3 linked regions of the Homo sapiens genome follow. The protein of the gene in region 1 purifies or fractionates together with the protein of each later gene. This does not show direct contact. Each region holds a gene or a part of one and is shown in the gene's direction. Other genes may lie near its edges. The genes, in order: OBI1, KCTD13 and MAP7.

Region 1 (3,654 bases):
AGGCAGCATTAGATTTTCATAGGAGCATGAACCCAAATGTGAACTGTGCATGCAAGGGATCTAGATTGTGTGCTCCTTAGGAGAGTCTAATGCCTGATGTTCTGAGGTGAAACCCCCCAGTCTGTGGAAAAATTATCTTCCACGAAACCAGTCCCTAGTGCCAAAAAGGTTGGGGACCGCTCCCTAGGATACCACTTTACTATGCTTACTCCAGATGAGTTTGGAATTGTATGTCACTTACCATTGCCATTTTTTTGTCTTGCATTTTTATTTCATGAGTACTGTTTTATTGCCACGGGTCTCATTTGAGAGTAAATTGGATAGAAAGTCTAATAATGTGACAAATGATGACCTTTTTTTTTTTGTCTTGGGAAGATCTTATTAAAGAAAATTATGTGTGTGTTTTGTTCTACCCAGAGCAGGATCTGGGTAGAAGAGGATGGGTGCTAGATTCTTTGTGTTTTGCTACCACAGATTACAGTCAAATATATAACAAGTAACTTGTTTTAGTAGTTCTTTAGAAATTTCTATTCTCGTAAGATAAATTCATTGAGTTGTCTAGAAATCATCATCTGATAAATACTCATTCCAATATTCATTTCCAAAGAAATGAATTAGTCACCTGTTTCCGAAATCTTCCCAACACAAAGGTGGTGATAATACCAGGTATCCAAAGGTGCAGAAAACTTTCCTGTGGGTGACATTGTTAATGACTCTTAGCAGACAGAGCCAAGCAGTCGGCCTGTGGTGGTGGTTCTGTATCATTTTGTCATATTAAATGGGGAGGTTAAACTTTTGCTTTTTTACAGTTTGACAGTGGCTGTTGACCTTTTGCTGCTTGAAGCACTTTTAGGATTGTTATCTCAGCCTTTCATTATAGTACATCAAAATTCACTTTTATTAATCTTGCAGTTGTTAGAGATGAGAAGGACACTCACCCTATTGTCAGTGAGCCTGAAATCTAATAAGGAAGACAGGATGTAAGCAGTTTCTAAGTACAGCACAATGCAGAAAGAGGTGAACATTAAATAAATGAACAGAGAGTGCCCTATCAAAGACTTGGTTAATTCTGAAAAAGATTAATGAAGGGCTTGCAGAGGAGGTGGCATTTTATTTGCATCTTAAAAGGAGGGAAGGAATTTTTTTTTTATTACTGTCAGGAGGATGGAGAGACCAGGAGGATATATCAAGCTGAGAAATGGAAGCTCTATAAATAGGGAGCCCCATAAACAGGGAGCCCCCAGTGTTCATATTCTTATTGGTGAACATAAGTAGACCTGTGAGGTTGAAGTGTGCATTGTGTCAAATATTGAAATGGTAGGTCAAGGGAAATGGCTGTTTAAGAATTAGATTATGTTCTTTGAAGGCTATACCTCGAACTATGAGCAGGAAAAAAATCATTACTGTTTTGTAGGAGAGGAGTGAAAGCTGCTTATTCATATTTTAGGAAGGTAGCTCTGGCATCATTGTGAAAGATGTACTGAAATGAACATTTGGAAGCTTGGGAGGTGGTCATTGCAGTAGATCAAAGACAAAAGAATGAGAACCTTAAATTCATTGGGGTGAAGATGCAAAGGAAAGGATAGATGAGAGGTGAAAGAATGTTTGGAGGTAGATTTGTCATGTTTTGACTATTCTGAGATGTACATTTTTTTTCAAATTATAACATCTCTGGAATCTGATTGTATCTTAACAATTGTAATTGACAGTTTTTCATTCTTAGTGATACATAAAATATTGGTGAATCTTCAAATCTGTGGCTTCTTAGACTTAATGTATAATACCAGCGTCTGGTGACAGTTTGGATGGTGAGGATAAGTAAAAAGAGTGATTCAGAGATAGCTCTGTTGTAGCTCAAGTGGAGAAGTAGTGATCTCATTAACTTAGGTGGGAGGGTGTGCAGGAAGAGGAGCAAGTGTGTAGTGGAGGCCAAATTATGGTTGAGGCAGCTGCAGGATCCTTATATGTAGTCGGCTCCTAGGCACTTGGATATAGTAATATTACCTTTTTTTTTTTTTTTGAGGGATTGCTATGTAGAAGTGTCTGTGCTGACATCCATTATATTATCTTAAACCTGAATGAAAAGGTTACTAGGTTAAGCCACAGTTTTCAGAGGCAGAAACTGATGCCCACAGTAGCTAAAGGGCTTACCCAAGGTCAGACTGCTCAATAAATGGCAGAACTGGAGTTGGCCCCAGGTTTGTCTGTCAGAGCCTAAGCTCTGCCACTTACTGACTCCAGTTACAGAGGGAGACTTGGGAGTTGTCAGCATAGAATAGATGTTAATGCCATGTGACACATGAGATTGAGAGAGAAAATAGAACACATCAGATAAGATGGCCCAGAACAAAACATTAGAGAAGGCAGTTATACCACCTTTAGTATCTTGACTATAAGCATCCCACTCTCTGATCCTGTTTCTATCATACTTATTCTCTACCATTACTTCAACCTCATGGAGACATTTTTGTTGACCCTATCACTTTTTCACTGTTATCATTACCGCTTGTGTACTTGTTTCCCTTATTATTCGTGGTCATTTGTTATCATCAGTCCCTGTCTCTTCCTCCTTGGCAAAACCCCAACTCTGGGTAAACCAAACTACTCATCTACTTCCTTCCTGAGTCTCCACAGCTAAATATTGATAAGAAAAATACACACCTACGTTAATTAATCTTACTTTGCATTAGAAACCACAGACCTGGAAAAGGAACTCAACAATGTATAGCAATCTGCTACCTATCCCTAGTAAATTAGCTTTCTCACTTTTCAAAATTACTGCTTTATTCTCCTGTCTTCTCAAATCTGTAACCCACTTCCCTTCTCGTTTTCAGCTGATAACTTCACCTCATATTTGATGACAAAAGATAAGCAGCTGAGATAGTGGGAACATGAATTTCCTCATTTTTCCATCCACAGATCTTCCAACCCCTTTGTGTTTGTTCACACACCCCCTATTTTCCCTTCTGTTGCAAAAGAAGACAAACCCTCACTCCTGTATGTGCCAAAATCTCCTTTTGTGCTTTGGATCCCTTTCCCCTCTTGACTTCTTAGGGACTTTGTTGCCTATCGCTGTAATACCCCCATCACTCTTCATCCATCACTAATATCCTCTCTTTATCATTCCCATTGGTATTCCTAACCGTCGTCTCATTTTTATGCTCTCTCCTTTACAGCAAAACATGAAAGAATTGTCTGTATTTTCTGTCTTCACTTCTTCATCTTTCATTGTCTCTCAACCTCCAGTCAGGTTTCCATCCCCAACATTCGCTGAAACAGTGCTTGTCGGTAACTGATCAGAGTGACTTCCAAGCAGTTAAATCCCATAGTCACATCTCAGTGCACATCAAACTCAATCTCACATCAATATTTTACTTATCTGGCCGCTGCCTCTCTCTTGAAAAACTTTCTTGCCTTGACTTCTGTGATATCATATTCTCCTTTCCTACATCACAGGACCCCTCCTTGTCAGTTTCCTCTGCTGGTTGCTCTTCCTCTTCCTTTGCTTGCTGGAGTGCCTTCTTTTCTCCAGCTGTTTTGTCCATTCATGAGATCTCCTCCAGTCCTATGGCCTTATATGCTCATGTCTTTTATGGCAGTGACTCAAAACCTGCCTTGTTGAACTTGTCCACTTAAAAATGGGCTTAGCATCAC
Region 2 (3,654 bases), on another chromosome or scaffold:
TCTAAAAAAATTAAAAGAAAAAAGGTGAGAAAGTCTGTTAATAAGAGTCCAGTGACCTTTAAGACAGCTGCAATAAGGGCTTGAAGAACAGTTAGGAAAATGCTATTGGAAACTGATGGAAAGGAGATCCTTGTGTAGCGGCAGAAAGTTTAGCAACACTGTCTCCTGCATTAGTGTGGAGGGTAGGAAATATACCTAAGGAACGGATGGTCTAGCTAAGGAGCTTTCCAGACAGAATGTTGAAGGTGCCACCTGGCTTCTTGCTGCTTATAGTAAAACTGAAGAGGAGAGAGTAAGTTAAAGAAAAAAAACACTTAAATGAAAAAGAGCCTGAAATTGTTGGGTTTGAAAATTCCCAGCCTTTCCAGATAACAAGTGATGTTAAAATTAACAAATGGCTTCCGTGCAAAGATTAAATACAAGGCATTAAATACAGGGAAATGTGGTCTAAAGGTCAAGCTGAGGATGTGATGAAAAAGTCCTTTGTTAAGACCTCAGAAATACCAACAAGATGCCTCAGAGGGGACTTCCAGTCGAATGAAATAATAATCACGCTTCTGAGAAGGTTAAAGGTGTTGTCTTTCAGCGTCTCAGCACAAGCCCAAAGTAGAGAAGGGCTTACCTTGCAGAGATTTTCTTTTTTCTTTTTCTTTTCTTTTTTTTTTTTTTGAGATAGCTCACTGCAACCTCCTCCTCCTGGGTTCAAGTGATTCTCCTGTCTCAGCCTCCTGAGTAGCTGCGATTACAGGTGCCCACCACCACGCCCAGCTAATTTTTGTATTTTTAGTAGAGATGGGGTTTCACCATGTTGGTCAGGCTAGTCTCAAACTCCTGACCTCAGGTGATCCACCCACCTCGGCCTCCCAAAGTGCTGGGATTACAGGCGTGAGCCACTGTGCCTGGCCACTTGCAGAGATTTCTAGGTGTGGCTTTTTTCTAATGTAGTGAACCCTAAGACATGCAAGATACCCAATAAGTTATGAAGAGAATTATATTGGCAGAGACACTGCCAGCTTGGACTGAAAGGGACAGAGCCAGTGCAAAAGGACAAGACGGCTTTGCACACCCAAACTTTTACAGGCAGGAAGCAGGCAGATGAAACTGTGGAGCTGCAAACATCTTTCATGGAAGAGGTGGGACGACTCAGGGAGAGCCATGGAGAATCATTCATGAACAGGAGTAGGCATCAAAGAGTTCCTAGCATTTCTCCAACTGGATTACAGAATTTCCACACACCAGTGACTTATATGTATGACTTATATGTGCCTCCTGTCCCCTGCCCCACTTTTTTTTTTTTTTGAGACAGAGTCTTGCTATGTTGCCCAGGCTGGTCTCGAACTCCTGGGCTCAAGTAATCCTCCCACCTTGGCCTCCTGAGTAGCTGGGATGACAGGCACACGCTACCACGCCCGGCTTCCCCTGCTTTTGAGCAAGAATGTCCTTACTGGTTATCCTGTGCCTGCCTCTACCACTGCACACTGGGAGTGTGGAGATGACCTGTCTCTTTAGCTCACAGGTCTGCAGATAGGAAATGCACTTAAGGGCTGGATGCGGTGGCTCACGCCTGTAATCCCAACACTTTGGGAGGCCAAGGCAAGTGGATCACCTGAGGTCAGGAGTTAAAGACGAGCCTGGCCAACATGGTGAAATCCCGTCTCTACTAAAGAAAATTAGCTGGGATGGTGGTGCATGCCTGTAGTCCCAGCTACTTGGGATGCTGAGGCAAGAGAATCACTTGAACCTGGGAAGCAGAGTTTTCAGTGAGGTGAGATGGTGGTGGCTCTGCACTTCAGCTTGGGAGACAGAGCAAGACTCCATTTCAAAAAAAAAAAAAAAAAAGAAATGCACTTAAGGAGCCATAGTTACGGAACTGCATGCTAGAGCCACATCCCCACCTGGACCTGACTGAGATGATGAGATTCTGTACTTTGAGCTGATGCTGTAATGGGATGATGGGGGATCCTGGAAGGTGGTGAGTATATTTGGCATGTGGGAGGGGGGAAATCACTGAGAGCCAGCGGTGGCCTGTGGAGCCAGCCACCAAGGCAGCCTGATGATTCTCGTCCCCTGGTGCTCGTTCCTGTGTGTCATCTCCTTCCTCACTGGATAGGACCAACAGACCTAGGTCATAAAAGACAATGGAGGGGCCCGGCGCTGTGGCTCACGTCTGTAATCCCAGCACTTTGGGAGGCTGAGGCGAGTGGATCACCTGAGGTCGGGAGTTTGAGACCAGCCTGGCCAACATGGTGAAACCCTGTCTCTACTAAAAATACAAAAATTAGCTGGGCGTGATGGCACACCTCGGTAATCCCAGCTACTTGGGTGGTTGAGGCAGGAAAATCACTTGAACCTGGGAGGCGGAGGTTGCAGTGAGCCGATATTACGCCACTGCACTCCAGCCTGGGCGACACAGTGAGACTCCATCTCAAAAATAAAAAAGACAATGAGGCTTCCACCTTGCCCTCTCTGGAATTATTTGCTCTGGAGAAGCCAGTTGCCATGCTGCGAGGATACTCAAGCAACCCTGTGGAGAGATCTACATGGCAGGGATTTGTTGTTTCCTGCCAGCAGCTAGTGCGAACTTGCCAGCCACATGAACAAGCTTTCTCAGAGTGCATCCTCTAGGGGCGGTCATGCCTTTGATGCCCACAGCCCCACTGACATCTTGGCCACAGCCTCAGAAGAGACCCTGTGCCGGAGCCACCCAGCCGAGCCACTGCTGAGATCCTGACCCTCAGAAACAGAAGTAATAAATATTGTTAATTTAAGCTCCTAAATTGGGGGCAGTTTGTTACACAGTGATAGATAACGAATTCATACTCCGTAATTCCCCTCGCACATTTGTGGTGTCTTTTTAAAAATACCAATTCTCATATACACAGTGGTCTGTTTCTGATCGCTCTGTTGTGTTTCTCAGGTATTTTTGTTTCTGTGCCCGAACTGATACCGTTCTCACTGTTGTGGCTTTGCAGCCTATCTTAATATCTGGCAGGGTCGGCCTTTCCTCTTTGCTCTTATTTTTAAAAACTGACCTAAGTTTGGGAGGATGGCTTGAGCCCAGGAGGTCAAGGCTGCTGTAAGCTGTGGTCATGCCACTGCACTCAGCCTGGATGACAGCAAGACCCTGTCTCAAAAAAAAAAAAAAAAAAAAAATGGCCTCAGTAATTGTAGACTTTTATTATTCTCTGTTAATTTTAGAGAGTCTTATGAGTTTCTGCAAAAAACAAATCTGGAATTTGTATTAGAATTGCGCATTGAGTTTTCAAGGTTGGGAGAAGTGAGAGGGATTTTGGCATGAAGATTCTAGAAGACAGAAGAGAAAGAAGCCCATGGGTTTGCTTCAGATTTCTTTCTCCAACGTCATCCCACCCAATGAAGTTCATTCACTCAACAAATATGTTCATTCATTCAACAAATACAGAGCATCAGCTGTATACTAGGTAGTTATTCCTAGGTGGGAAGAGACAGATCATAAACAAATACAAAAAGTTAGAAAAAGTCAGACACTAACTGCTGTGTAGAAAATGAACTGATAGGCCTGGTGCAGTGGCTCACGCCTGTAATCCCAGCACTTTGGGAGGCTGAGGCGGGCTGATCACCTGAGTTCGGGAGTTCATGACCAGCCTGACCAACATGGAGAAACCTCGTCTCTAC
Region 3 (3,654 bases), on another chromosome or scaffold:
ATTAAACCTTAGTTTTCTCATCTGGACATGGAGATACTTTCCACACAAAGTATTGGGAGGTTCAGTGAAATGCTATCTGTGAAGGAGTTCCAAAAACTGTTGTACTATATGAATGTTACATATCATTATCTTTATCCTCCTAAAATGAATGCAGTGTCCAGAAAACACACAGTACACTAGGTGTAGCTGCAGTGTGATGTAAAATAATGCTTTTGGTTTGTTCCTGGTATCCCATCTTCTCCTGCCTAGCATTTTATTGGCTTTTTTTTGTTTTTTCGTTTTTTTTTTTTTTTTTACCATCAAAACACAAGGAGTCAGTATCACCAAGGAACAGTTTGCAGTGATCCCAAGATGTCTTAACCTCCATTGTGACTGATCATTCACTGTCTTTTAAGGATAGCTCAGCTGACAGTTTTCTAAACCCACTGCTTTTACAGACTGCCTGCCTTGTCACTCATTTCATGATTTTCCCTGTTTTCTCGAGGGGCTATTTTTATGACTTGCATTTCCAAGAATAAACATTATCTGCATACTTAAATTTTATCCTGCTTGTCTTCCGATTATTATAAAACTAAACCTAGCACTGATCCCTGGGGCTCTCTGCCACTTAAACTCTTCCATCTAGAGAAGGGCTTGCTTATTCCTGTCTTTATTTTGTTTTATTTTTATTTTATAAAACAGAGTCTTGCTCTGTCACCAAGCCTGGAGTGCAGTGGTACGAGCATGGCTCACTGCAGCCTCTACCTCCTGGCTCAAATGATCCTCCCACCCCAGCCTCCTGAGTAGCTGGGACTACAGGTGCGAGCCACCACACCCAGCTAATTTAAAACATATATATTTTTATAGAGATTAGGTCTCCCTGTGTTGCCCAGGCTAGTCTCAAACTCTTGGCCTCTGGCCTTAAGCAGTCATCCCACCTTGGCCTCCTGAAGTGTTGGGATTACAGGCGTGAGTCACCACGCCCAGCCTATTCTTGTCTTTAAAATCCATCCCCAAAACAGCTTCCCATTCATGAATAAACATTCCCTTTGATGCAGTGGAAACTCAGGTTTTTAAACAGTTTTACATCTGAAATTCTGTTAAAAACTTTAAATGACAAATCACATCCATAAATATTTCCTTTCACTCCTAGTTTCAAATCAACCTTAAAATGCTTATAAAATCTTTGGTTTTCATCTCAGTGCATTATTTTTAGTGAGGCATTCCATGATCCTTGTGATCAGTCAGTATCTTTATTAAATACCCTACTTTGCACCTCAAGTAGAGTTATAGATCCCTCCAGCTTGCCCACTGTGAATTAAATCACTGATTAATGGAAATGCTCGGGGTCCCTGCCAAAGAACATGGTGTGCCTGATACTCCATGAAAATCCATCATGACAGATCATGCAAGTATAGTGGTAGAATTTATTTTTGCTAGAAAACTCCACTGCTCAGAATGACTATCTTTTCATTCAAATTGAGAGAGAAGTATCACTTTTCCTAATGTCTTTAGTACCTAATATATTCGTAAATAAATGAATGCTGTGAACTAAATTACATTTGCTCCTCCCCACCTTGAGATATTTCAGCAAACTGTCTAGCAGCACCCCAGGAGGATGGCGACCCCCTAACATTACTTTTCCTAGCAGCTAGGACTGAGACCCTTTGTTATAGAACAACTCTGTACCAGAAGTATCCTGAACCCTACTCCTCACCTTACTCCTGAGTGAGACGCCTGGCCCCTTTGCCCCAAAGCCATTTTTCTTGCCCATCTCTTTTCCCCCTGACAGGTTCCCCACTGACATTAGTTAGAATGGAAGAGGGTTTGAGTTATCACAATTCTGGCCAGATTTTAAAGGTATACAGAAATATGTGAATATGCCAAGTGTGGTGGCTCACGCCTGTAATCCCAGCACTTTAGCAGGTCTAGGCAAGCAGATCACTTGAGCCCAGGAGTTCAAGACCAGCTAGCAACATGGCAAGATCCCGTCTCTACAAAAAATACAAAGATCAGCCGAGGGCAGTGGCATGCATCTGTAGTCCCAGATACGCGGGAGGCTGAGGCGGGAGGATCGCCTGAGCCCAGGGAATTGAAGCTGCAGTAAGCCGTGATTGCACCACTGCACTCCAGCTTGGGCAACAGAGTGAGACCCTGTCTCAAAGAAATATATGAATATATATTAATAACATATATGGATTTTATAAAATTTTATAAATGAATATATACATTTTCCTATGTAAGATATACGACGTTTATAAAATACTTGAAATATATCTTTATGAAATATATGAATATTATATATGCCCTTGAGCTGATCATTCTTACTCAAAAGCCATGTTTGGTTCTTAAGAGAGAGTACTTGTGGAGGGATGTTCCACAGGAATTGAGGAAAATATTTGTCCATGGATAGGAAACTTGCTTTGGAACAGGAAACAAAGGATACGGATCCATATGAATACAAGTCGGGGAGGACAGGGGTGAATATCAGAATGGGAACAGAGGAAGTTATCTGCAGTTTCTCAGGTCATTCTGAGATGTTCTTCTACCCCTAGCTGAGAATCTCTAGTCCAGAGGCTAAGAAGCTCTGCTGCCTATACAGATACTGCCTTACCCTCCTAATACTCCAGAAGACATTTCATGTTTGTTCATTGCCGTAGGGGAGCTGTCTTTTCGTAGAATGTTCGTCTTTTTTTTTAAATAAGAAGTTTTTGGTAATTTTGGTGTTTGACCCATTCATTTTCCCTCCAAATCTTGAGTTCATCATTGCTCTTAGTTTGGCCTGAAGGAAAAGTAACATTCCCAGGCCCCTATTGTTCACACAGGAAGAGATGTATCCCTTTTAATTTAAAAGTTACTTGTTTTAACATAATTAATAAATATCAAGAGAAAATAAGGTTCTGGCTTCCATAAGCTGTGTGGACTGCAGATTCTTGCCAAGGTCCCAACCCCTGCCTGTACACATTTTGGACTGGAGCAAAGCGTGCGGTCTTCAAAAGTCTTACATCAGTCTTCAAACTTCAGAAGGTAACTGAAGGCAGGGAATTCAGAAGCTGGTGCTCTTATTCTGAGTGGACACACGGATCCATACTCCTTAACCCCAGTACTTCAGTTTCAGTTTTATAGTTTCTACCAGTCCCGATGTCCCCTGAACATTTCATGACTTGTCATCCAATGCATATGGCACAATTATCCCTCTGATTGCCAGCAGGTAGAATGGGCAGGTGGAGGGGAAATGAAATCTGATACTGGCTCAAGTCTGGGGTTAGCCATTGCCATTATGACTTGTTAGTACATGCAGGCCTGGAAGGTGACAGGTTAAGGTTGCCAAGGAAAGGGGGCTCTGGAGATACGTTCCTGTTCTTTATCCTTTGCCAGGACTTCTACTTAAATTCTCTCTGTATTAAGAACCAAAATTGTTTCCCTAGTTACAGAAAGGCTGTTGGTGTTAGGCAAGAACAGGAAGATGGGTGTGGCAGCCCAGGCACTTAGAACAGTAGATGTTAGGCATGTGTGTGCACACGTGACTTGGGGGGGGGGGCATGTGCACATGTGTGTGACTGTACTCTTGTGGAGACTTATAATGCCTAGTGGCATTCCCTTCCCTTCTTAGTAAAATAGCAGAAAAGCATCATCACACTGTATAATATTTCAGATTATTTTACAAATAATGTT

What was found.
Region 2: the proteins of OBI1 (region 1) and KCTD13 purify together in Homo sapiens (co-immunoprecipitation; one large-scale study listed by IntAct). This does not show direct contact.
Region 3: the proteins of OBI1 (region 1) and MAP7 purify together in Homo sapiens (affinity purification with mass spectrometry, with the first as the bait; one large-scale study listed by BioGRID). This does not show direct contact.

Annotation. Positions count from the first base shown.
Region 1 is NC_000013.11:78,649,110-78,652,763, reverse strand, and holds part of OBI1 (ORC ubiquitin ligase 1), read left to right. Parts: intron 1-3,654. UniProt on the Homo sapiens protein: E3 ubiquitin ligase essential for DNA replication origin activation during S phase.
Region 2 is NC_000016.10:29,912,621-29,916,274, reverse strand, and holds part of KCTD13 (BTB/POZ domain-containing adapter for CUL3-mediated RhoA degradation protein 1), read left to right. Parts: intron 1-3,654. UniProt on the Homo sapiens protein: Substrate-specific adapter of a BCR (BTB-CUL3-RBX1) E3 ubiquitin-protein ligase complex required for synaptic transmission.
Region 3 is NC_000006.12:136,347,878-136,351,531, reverse strand, and holds part of MAP7 (ensconsin), read left to right. Parts: intron 1-3,654. UniProt on the Homo sapiens protein: Microtubule-stabilizing protein that may play an important role during reorganization of microtubules during polarization and differentiation of epithelial cells. Associates with microtubules in a dynamic manner.